Homo sapiens: one gene and its partner. The protein of the gene in region 1 interacts with the protein of each later gene in a pairwise test. Each region holds a gene or a part of one and is shown on either strand. Other genes may lie near its edges.

Region 1 (5,261 bases):
TAGCTGGGCATGATGGCACGCACCTGTAATCCCAGCTACTTGGGAGGCTGAGGTACAAGAATCGCTTGAATCCAGGGGATGAAGGTTGCAGTGAGCCGAGATGGCGCCACAGCACTCTACCCTTTGTGACAGAGTGAGACTCTGTCTCAAAAACAAAAGACCTAAAGTTGAAATAGCATCCCCTCTTACCACAATTCTGTCCCAAAGAAAGAAGAGTATATTCCACTTTTAAATAACTAAGGGAGAATTTCATTTATAATAAATAACCATACACTTTAAAATTTCATTATAATAACCATGTATTTTTAGAAATTTGTATTTAATTATCCCACTCCACCTTCATTTCAAACAGAGAGACTTGTTTCAGAAAAAAGGCACTATGTAAAGTTTAATAAGATTAAAAATTCTGCCACAATATACAAAGAAAATATAAGTACCTATTCCTGATTAGGTGTATCAGTTTAAAGATCTGTCTCAGCTGGCTTTCTATACATACCTTATGGGAATAATGAGGATCCATGATCCGTGCAAGACCAAAGTCACCTATCTTCAGCACCAAGTCTTCCGTATTAATGAAAAGATTAGCTGGTTTGAGATCTCTGTGCAGTACATTTGCAGAGTGAATATACTTGAGCCCCCGTAGCAGCTGATACATGAAAAGCCTGGCATGCTCTTCCAGTAAAGGGCCCTGCTCCAGCACATTAGCCAAGTCTGTCTCCATGTACTCCTGAACAATGTAAACACTGTTCAGTTCCGTAAGAGAGCCCACATCGTCTGTTAATTGGCTTCCACTGGGACCAAGAATCTCAAACACTTTCACAATGTTATCATGGTCAAGTCTTCTAATAATTTTGATTTCACGTAGAGCATGTTTGACACTCTGGGGATCAGTAAGGACAATTTTCTTGATGGCTACTCTTTTGTCACAGTCATTGTCTACAGCAGAAAAAACCAAGCCATTGCCTCCACAACCCAATGGTTTTAAGTCCATATACCTAGAACCCAGATCAAAACCATGAATGTTCATGAGACTTTCAAATTTCTCTGCCATTTTGAAACCCTTACTATTGCCTTTTCCTTTCAAATTGAACTTGTGTAAACAAGGAAGAAAACTGGCATCAAAAGGAAAGATCTTTCAAAAAGGGAGAAGAAAAATAATTATGCTTCCACAGCAAGATGGTTTCTTGATGTTCATTGCATATGCCAAACAGGCCTGTCGAGTTCCCCTTAGATTTAAAGCTCAAAAAGCTCTATTCATATTGAGAATTAAAAAGATTGCAGTACTCATAGTTCAAGAAAGGGGCAGCAACTCTGCAGACATTTAACGAAAACAAGAAACTCAAACGGAATGAAATGACATACTGTGCACTCAGATTACCGTGCTAAACGATTTAACATTTAACAAAAATGTGAATAAATATGCACACAACAGGCTTCTATGAACATTCTCCTCACAGTGCAGATACATTCAGTGTTGGACTGGTCCTGAGCAGCATCATTCTAAGGTGCTGGTAAGCACTATTTCCGTTTTGCTTCTTTTTTTCCTTTGTTGCTATATATTTATTTCAACAGGAAGCCCTGGCGGCTGTTGGTTAACAGAAGATGTCTTTTGTTAGTGATCAGGTGGCTCCAGCTCACCACAATCACAATCAAAGCTACCGTCCATCTTACTCTGATACAACCTGGGGGGATGAGAAAAAGAAGAGAGTCACCATTGCAGGAAATACTCTTTTCTTCAAATTTGTAGTATGACACAAAGTAGGCATTTAGCAATAAACTACTACTGGTACATTAAACTTAATTATGGTCATTAAGTGACAAATTACCCTTAATCAAAAATAGCTTACAAAAATGTTATCAGCAATTCACACACGTTGGCCCGGGCTCCAGATTTCACTACACTAGATTCTTGGTAACAGGCTCATTAGGTTGTACCATTTCTGAAATGCCAACAAGTATGGGAAGGTTCATAATATTTTTATAGAACTTGAGTTTTGTGAGGGGTAAAACGTTAGTAACATCTATCTAAATATCTAAAAGAATATAGAAGAAGCCTGCAATGTGTTAGTTTGTTAAAAAGCATGTTTACTTATTAACTATGCCTATCAATATCCAATGAACAAAAATCTAACAGCACAAATATGCAAATAATGTTCTTCAACTTATAAGAGTAAACTTGAACAATGAATAATACCTATGAAAAGGTATTTAATGTGACTGATAGGAAAAGATTACCTTAAGAGAACATTTCAGATTGAAAAAACATGCATCTCTGTTAATGTCAAGTCTGAGGAGTGTAGAAAAACAAACTTTCACACAATAGTGGTTGGAGTTTAAATTAGTAAAAACTTCAGAGCAATTTGGCATAAACATATAAATGAATAAATAAATAGCGTACTCTATGACCCGGCCATTTTTCTTCACAGTAAACTCCCTAGAGAAATGCTCATTTTTTTTTGGTAAAGAAAATTAGAAACAACCTCAACTTCATAAAATAGGAGAACAGATAAGTAGTTATATGCATGCAAAATAGTTTTTTTTGGTAAGTACATATGTATATTGCAAAACTAAAAAAAAAAAAAAAAGGAAAAAAAAATGAGACAAATACCAAATTCATAATGATTACCCGGAGATTAAGGAAAGAGACCAGAATCATTTATCTGCGTTTTAATGTGTTATTTATTTTAAAATAACAAACATGGCAGATTACTAGAATCTTATAGAGCTGGGTGGTATGTATATGAAGGTTCATTATATTGATCTCTGTACACTTAAAATATTTCATACTTTAAAAAATATCCTATAAAAGGGCAGGAAAAAATAGCCTCAACTCCAGTAGATGGTTCCCTAGCCAGCCTGGAAAAAAAAAAATGCAACTTGGTTCTTTCAGTTTCTTAATGGCCTAATTGCAGAGTACCCAGAATACCAGATATGAGGCATTATGGAAAATCAGGTGGTCAGAATTCCTAACAAATAAGACCAGACAATATTTTAGGCAGAAAGAATAAAGCCACCAATTTATTCGTTTAATATATAAACATATATTGAGCAACTACTATATGCTAGGCAGGAGCAAACCTGATATGAGCAAAAGGATTCTGGCCCTCAGTAAACGCAACTCATTGTCCAATAGGAGAAAGACAGCTTTAATAAAAACTGATACTTACTATATCCCTCAGTTCTTTTAATAAATAAGAACGGGTCTTGTATCTGCTTAATATCATGAAGGATACTAATAGTATAATAGCTTTATTTTACTGTAACAGAAACGGCTTCTCCTGTCTACAAGTTTTTCTCTGCTTCTCAGAAATCAGCCCTCCTAGCCCGCCCCCCCAAAAAAAAAGTCCTAAAAATTCTGTAGCTTACCAGTCTATCTGTAATAAAACACTTAAAAGTTGAAGTTTGTGAATAAACTTTTGAATTAAAAAAATATCTCAAGGCCGGACACGGTGGCTCACGCCTGTAATCCCAACACTTTGGGAAGCCGAGGCAGGCAGATCACGAAGTCAGGAGTTCAAGACCAGCCTGGCCAATATGGTGAAACCCCGTCTCTACTAAAAATACAAAAAGTAGCCAGGCGTGGTGGCGCATGCCTGTAGTCCCAGCTACTCAGGAGGGTAAGGCTGGATAATCGCTTGAACCAGGTAGGTAGAGGTTGCAGGGAGGTAGAGGTTGCAGTGAGCCGAGATCCTGCCATTGCACTCCAGCCTGGGGGACACAGCGAGACTCTGCCTCAAAAAAAAAAAAAAAAAAAAAAAAAAAAAAAAAATCAAACAACTTAAGTCCAACATATCATTTGCTATTATCTAGCTGAGCCATTAGTCTGTCTTTGGTCTTTAGCCAGTGGATTTTCAATGTTGTTATATGATCTAGCTCATGTGATAGTGGAAATAAGTAATAAAAATAAATTTTTGTGGCCAGGCGCGGTGGCTCACGCCTGTAATCCCAGCACTTTGGGAGGCCAAGGCAGGTGGATCTCCTCAGGTCGTGAGTTCGAGATCAGCCTACCAACATGGAGAAACCCCGTCTCTACTAAAAATACAAAAATCAGCCCAGCGTGGTGATAGGTGCCTGTAATCCCAGCTACTCGGGAGGCTGAGGCAAGAGAATCGCTTGGACCTGGGAGGTGGAGGTTGCAGTGAGGTGAGATCACGCCACTGCACTCCAGCCTGGGCAAAAGAGCAAGATTCCGTCTCAAAAAAAATGAATAAATAAAAAATAAAAATAATTTTTGTATTGGTAAAAAAGTTTCAGATTTTTAAAAAGGGCTTTAATACTGCATGTCTCCCTCCCACCAAGTTTTTTCTGTTTGTACACATCTTGATTCTTCCTGCTCGCTCCCCACTAAATACCCTAGGAAAACCAGTTTGTTTGTTTTTTGAGACAGGGTATTGCTCTGTCATCCAGGCCAGAGTGTAGTGGCGTGATCACCACTCACTGCAACCTCTGCATTCTGGGCTCAAGCAATCCTCCCACCTCAGCCCCTCAGCCCCCCAAGTAGCTGGGACTACAGGCAGGAGTCACCACACCTGGCTAATTTTTGTATTTTTTGAAGAGACGGGGTTTCACTATGTTTCCCAGGCTGGTCAAGAAAACCAGTATTTCTCAAAGGCTCCATTATTTCCTAAATTTTACATCTCTAGTCTCTACCTGAAATAGAATGCTTGTTCACGCTTACCTTCTTGCCTTAACGTAGACAATTCCTTAAAGCTCAGTCATGTTTTACATTTCTGATAAATGTACACTGTAAAGTCAGTTCTATAGACAAATGAAATGAGAACAGTAAGATCTCCAAGTTCTCTCTCAAACTTCTAGTTCACAGCAATCTAGTCAAGCACAAATAATGCTTTGTCAAAAATTACACCACTGTTATCTGACAGAATAGCACTATAGTAGGAGTTGTAGCCAGATTAGGAAAGCCATGAAAATGAGAGATCCTTACTCAAGACCCCCATCCACATCTGCCCCCCTTAAATTTTATTGAGACCAAGCCTCACAAACTAGAAACTTCAAGGATGCGAGTGCCTTTTCAGAATTCTCAGTGACTGGTCAGCACTTAACGAGGTAAGAGTGGGTAAAAAGTGATACTAGGGAAGGTAGGAGCTTTGCCTACACTGAGAACTGCAGAGTCATCACTATGTGCTCAGATGATGAAGACTATACATTGTAACAAGAGAAGGTAGTATTTATAAAACAAACTGTAATTCCACTAGACAATGAGGATTATACCAGTTAAACATCTGGGGGAGAAAAAGATTTAC
Region 2 (4,432 bases), on another chromosome or scaffold:
CAGTGGATGAGAGTTTGTAGAAGTGAGGAATCTGGGGAATCAGGCCCCTATACACTGGAAGGAACTTTGACAAATCGAACAAAATTCCAGATGCATTTGTCCTTTGGTCCAGACCCTTCACTTCTAGGCATTATCCCACAGATGCCCCTGCATGAGTACCAGTGAGCTATGGAGGAGGCTATTCAGCCTGGCACTGTCTGTGTGGGCAGAAGACTGAAATTGACCCAAGCATCCCATCTTGTCTTCCTTCCGTTTTGTCCGCCTTCCTGCCCTTTCTTCTTCCCACATGTGCCACCCTCACAGGCTGGCTGAGTGTAGACCACAGACACATAAGCTTCTGTTGCCACCCTCCAGGCCTTACGATCAGAGAAAACTTGGAGGCAGATGAGTGCAATAAAGGATAAACCCATCTACCATGGGAGGAGCCCACAGGCAGACAGAGCAGGTGTTTGCATCCTACCAGCATCAAGGTAACACGCAGTCACACCCCTCCAAGAGAAGCAGTGACTGGTGTTGACTCTTGGAAACAGAAGACCTATCTCTCTCTGCAAGAAACACTTGAGCTTAGGAGAAGATAAAACAGACTGTGACCATTCTTCTCCATGAGGCTCAAAGTCCAGGAGGGTAGGGCCCAGGAAGGATCTGCTCACCACCCCATTCCTAGAGCTGGCATGCAGCAGGTGCTCAGCACGTAATGGGGCAGGAATTCACACAGTCATCTAGAGAGTGCTTGTCTTTACAGTTGGTGTGCTTGCCGTTGTGCCTGTATTCACATGCACAGCACCGACATTCAGCATCACAGTCATATGCAGTACAAACCCACAGTGCCTTGACAAGGCCCATAACTGGATCAGGACAGGGCAGAAAAGTGACCCCCAGGGGTAACTCCAGAGGGTTAGGGTATGAAATACACCTGTCCAGCTACATACTCACACTTTCTGGTCTTGTTGCTGCAACAGAGCAGAAAGGTTACTCAGCTGGATGATTAATATTGCAAATTGCTTATTCTTCTCATCATACCTGAAATGAAAAGGGGCATATGAAGTACCTATTAGTAACACACTCATCTCTCTCATTCCTTCTCTCCATTAAAAGTCACAGGACGTGGCTGTTGGCTGCCCTGGGGCCTATGGTGAGCTCTAGAGCACAGGCCCAGTGCTTTGCTGCCATGCAGGGATGTAGAGCTAGAGCTGCCAATTGTTTGAAAATTTTTTTTTTGTTTTGAAACAGGGTCTCACTCTGTCATCCAGGTTGAGTGCAGTGGCATGATCGGGGCTCATGGTAGCCTCGACCTCCCAGGCTCAGGTGATCCTCCCACCTCAGCCTCTCAAGTAGCTAGGACTACAGGTGTTCACCACCACACCCAGCTAATTTTGTGTATTTTTAGTAGAGATGGGGTTTCATCATGTTGCCTGGGCTGGTCCTGAACTCCTGGAATCAAGTGATTCCTCTGCCTCAGCCTCCCAAAGTGTCAGGATTAAAGGTGTGAGCCACCACACCCAGCCAGTTGTCTGAATTTTTAAAAAGAACCCATAAATGCGGGTGAAATTTCATGATATGGAAATGTTGTCAACTAATTCCTATTAAAAAATATTGAAGGCCAGGTGTGGTGGCTCATGCCTGTAATCTCAGCACTTTGGGAGGCCAAGGCGGGCAGATCATTTGAGGTCAGGAGTTTGAGACTAGCCTGGCCAACATGGTGAAACTCCATCTCTATTAAAAATACAAAAGTTAGCCGGGCGTGGTGGCACACACCTGTAATCCCAGCTACTTGGGAGGCTGAGGCAGGAGAATCGCTTGAACCCAGGAGGCAGAGGTTGCAGCGAGCTGAGATCACACCACTGCACTCCAGCCTGGGTGACAGGTGAGACCCTGTCTCAAAAAAAAAAAAAAAAAAAAATTGAGATCATATCATCCCCCAACAAAAGAAAACAAAAAGAACAACCATGTGTGTATTGACCCAATCTGGGCTGCAGCCCCCAGTGATCAACTTCCATCCAGATCAATGAAACCTAGATGGGATGGAAAGACAAAAGCCACAGCAACAATGAACAAACACACTGAGAGGCAGGAGGTCTCAGTCCCAGTCCTGGCTCTGCTACCAGCCAGCTCAGTGAGTTGGGCCAAGTCATAAGGTCTTTTAAAACCCCATTTCTCCAACCTCATTTCTCCTATCTGTAAAGCGGATGGCTGGGAGGTGAGGAACGAATCAGCATCCCTTCAGTTAAGAAGCTGCAATGGCCAGCAGGTCCTGCTGGTGCTGCCTTCCACCCTGGGCGGCTGTGAAGGTAAATGCTGGGGAACGCTGTGGATGAAGAAGGGACCCCACACAGACCGTTCCTTCTGTCCTCCTCGTCCTCGTCACTTACTTCAGGGCAATCTGAATTCGGGTCGCACCCACTGCTTCCGATTCGTCACTGTCAAATGCAGCAGCTTCTGAAGCACCCAGTCTGAAAGGCAACAGGGGAGGAGGAGTTAGGCTTCCCTACAGTGAACAAACTATTCTGGGAGGCTGAGGTTACATCCCCAGGAAGGAAAGTTGGGGTTTGCTCAGCTTCCCTTCAGGTCCTTTTTTAAATTTTAATTAAAAAAAATTTTTTTTAGAGATGGGGGCTCACTATGTTGCCCAGGCTGGTCTCGAACTCCTTGTATCAAGTGATCCTCCCACTGAAGCCTCCCAAGTAGCTGGGATTACAGACTCACACCACTATGCCCAGCTTGGACTCCTCTCTTAAGGGGCCTTCCCTTTCTCTAGTGCTTGCTCCTTAGCCATATACCTTTTTCGTAGCTACCACAGAACTAGCACTCCCCCAAACCTGAAGCATCTCTAACCCCAGGAAAAGTTATGCTGTCTGTGCCTTGGGCAGCCAAGAGGAAGGTGGGGTCATGCCCTCTTGGGGCTCCTCCCACACACTGTGGGGGCCAAAACCTAAGCCTCTCCACAGGCCTAGGCTCTGGATATTCAGAGTTCATGGCTTACAGGGCCACAGAGAGAGCCAGCACCCAGACACCTACCTCTGCACGGAAGCCTCGTACACACCACTGTCTCCAGCCACTGACTCGTCCGATACGGCGGCTGAGACACAGGCCACTTTCAGGCCACACCCCTGGGCCGTATTCACAGCTAGGGAAGGAAAATGGAAAGGCAGGTTCAGGAACCAGGAAACTGCCTTTGCGACTCCCAATTTTGTTTTGTTTTTGAGGCAGGGTCTCACTCATCCAGGCTGGAGTGCAGTGGCACAATCATGGCTCACTGCAGCCTCGACCACTTCGGGTTCTGGTGATCCTCCCACCTCCGCCTCCCAAATACTGGAACTACAGGCATGTGCCACCATACCCAGCTAATTTTTGAATTATTATTTTGTTGTAGAGATGGGGTTTTGCCATATTGCCCAGGCTGGTCTTGAACTCCTGGTCTTAGGCGATCTGCCTGCTTTGGCCTTCCAAAGTGTTGGGATTACAGGCGTCAGCGACTGTAATCCCAACACTTTGGGATTCGGGGAGCCTGAACTCCCAATTTTGATACACTCTCTATGGAAGACAGACGGTTCCACCAAATTCCAACCACCTCTAAATGCTAAAGCAAAAAAAAAAAAAAAAAAAAAAAATTAAAAAAAAGTTTGCTTTAGGGTGATGGAAGGAGTCACATGTGATTTTGTGTTTTACCATCCCAGGCTCTTGAGTCGAACTGCCTGGATTCAAATCCGGCTCCACCACTCACTGCTTCATGACCTTGAGATACTGACTTAATCCTGTTAAGCCTCAGATGCCTCATTTGTAAAACTTGGATAATAATACCTACTTATAGGGCTGTTGACAGGACTCAGCGAGACATTATAAGGGAAGTCCTTAATATAGAGATTGGTGCAGGCAGGCAAAGTGCTCTGCAAAACTCATTACAACTATCCTTATTGCCACTACTGTTCCTATCACTGTAGATATCCATACTTTCAATGGCAAAAACTGCAATTACTTTTGCATCAACCTAACAGATCCATCCCTACCCACCTGGGGCAAAATAACAGCCCCTGGACCCTCAGGACAGAGAAGGGAGAGATTAAGCACCCGTTCTTCCACTGCCTATCCCTTTCCACTCCGAATTCAGCTCCTCCTCTTCCCTAACCTTAACAGGGGCCCTTGAAAGTCTCTGATCTGAGGCTCATAACTAAGCACTCAACACGTGCTGCACATTCCTTCCTTGCCCAAGTAATGATCACTCACGATGTGCCAGGCCCATTGCCATGTTCAGAACTACAAAGATGAATAAGACAATTCCTGCCCTCCTTGCAGCGGGGAAGGCCAGATCCAGATCTTACAACCTCACAGCTAACACCTCTGAGCACCTGCGGGCAGACCGGAGCAGGGCAAGGGCTCGCAGCATTGAGGGGCACAGAGTCCAGGGCATGGCAGGCCGGGGACGGCGATGGGTGAC

What was found. Proteins that work in one complex are often made in the same cells at the same time.
Region 2: the proteins of MAPK6 (region 1) and WWC1 interact in a two-hybrid assay, tested with the Homo sapiens proteins (one large-scale study listed by BioGRID and IntAct).

Annotation. Positions count from the first base shown.
Region 1 is NC_000015.10:52,042,251-52,047,511, reverse strand, and holds part of MAPK6 (mitogen-activated protein kinase 6), read right to left. Parts: intron 4,759-5,261; exon of another isoform or gene 4,679-4,758; intron 3,735-4,678; exon of another isoform or gene 1,848-3,734; intron 1,683-1,847; 5' UTR 1,052-1,682; coding exon 497-1,051; intron 1-496. UniProt on the Homo sapiens protein: Atypical MAPK protein. Phosphorylates microtubule-associated protein 2 (MAP2) and MAPKAPK5.
Region 2 is NC_000005.10:168,426,725-168,431,156, reverse strand, and holds part of WWC1 (protein KIBRA), read right to left. Parts: intron 3,125-4,432; coding exon 3,016-3,124; intron 2,451-3,015; coding exon 2,370-2,450; intron 1,021-2,369; coding exon 934-1,020; intron 1-933. UniProt on the Homo sapiens protein: Regulator of the Hippo signaling pathway, also known as the Salvador-Warts-Hippo (SWH) pathway.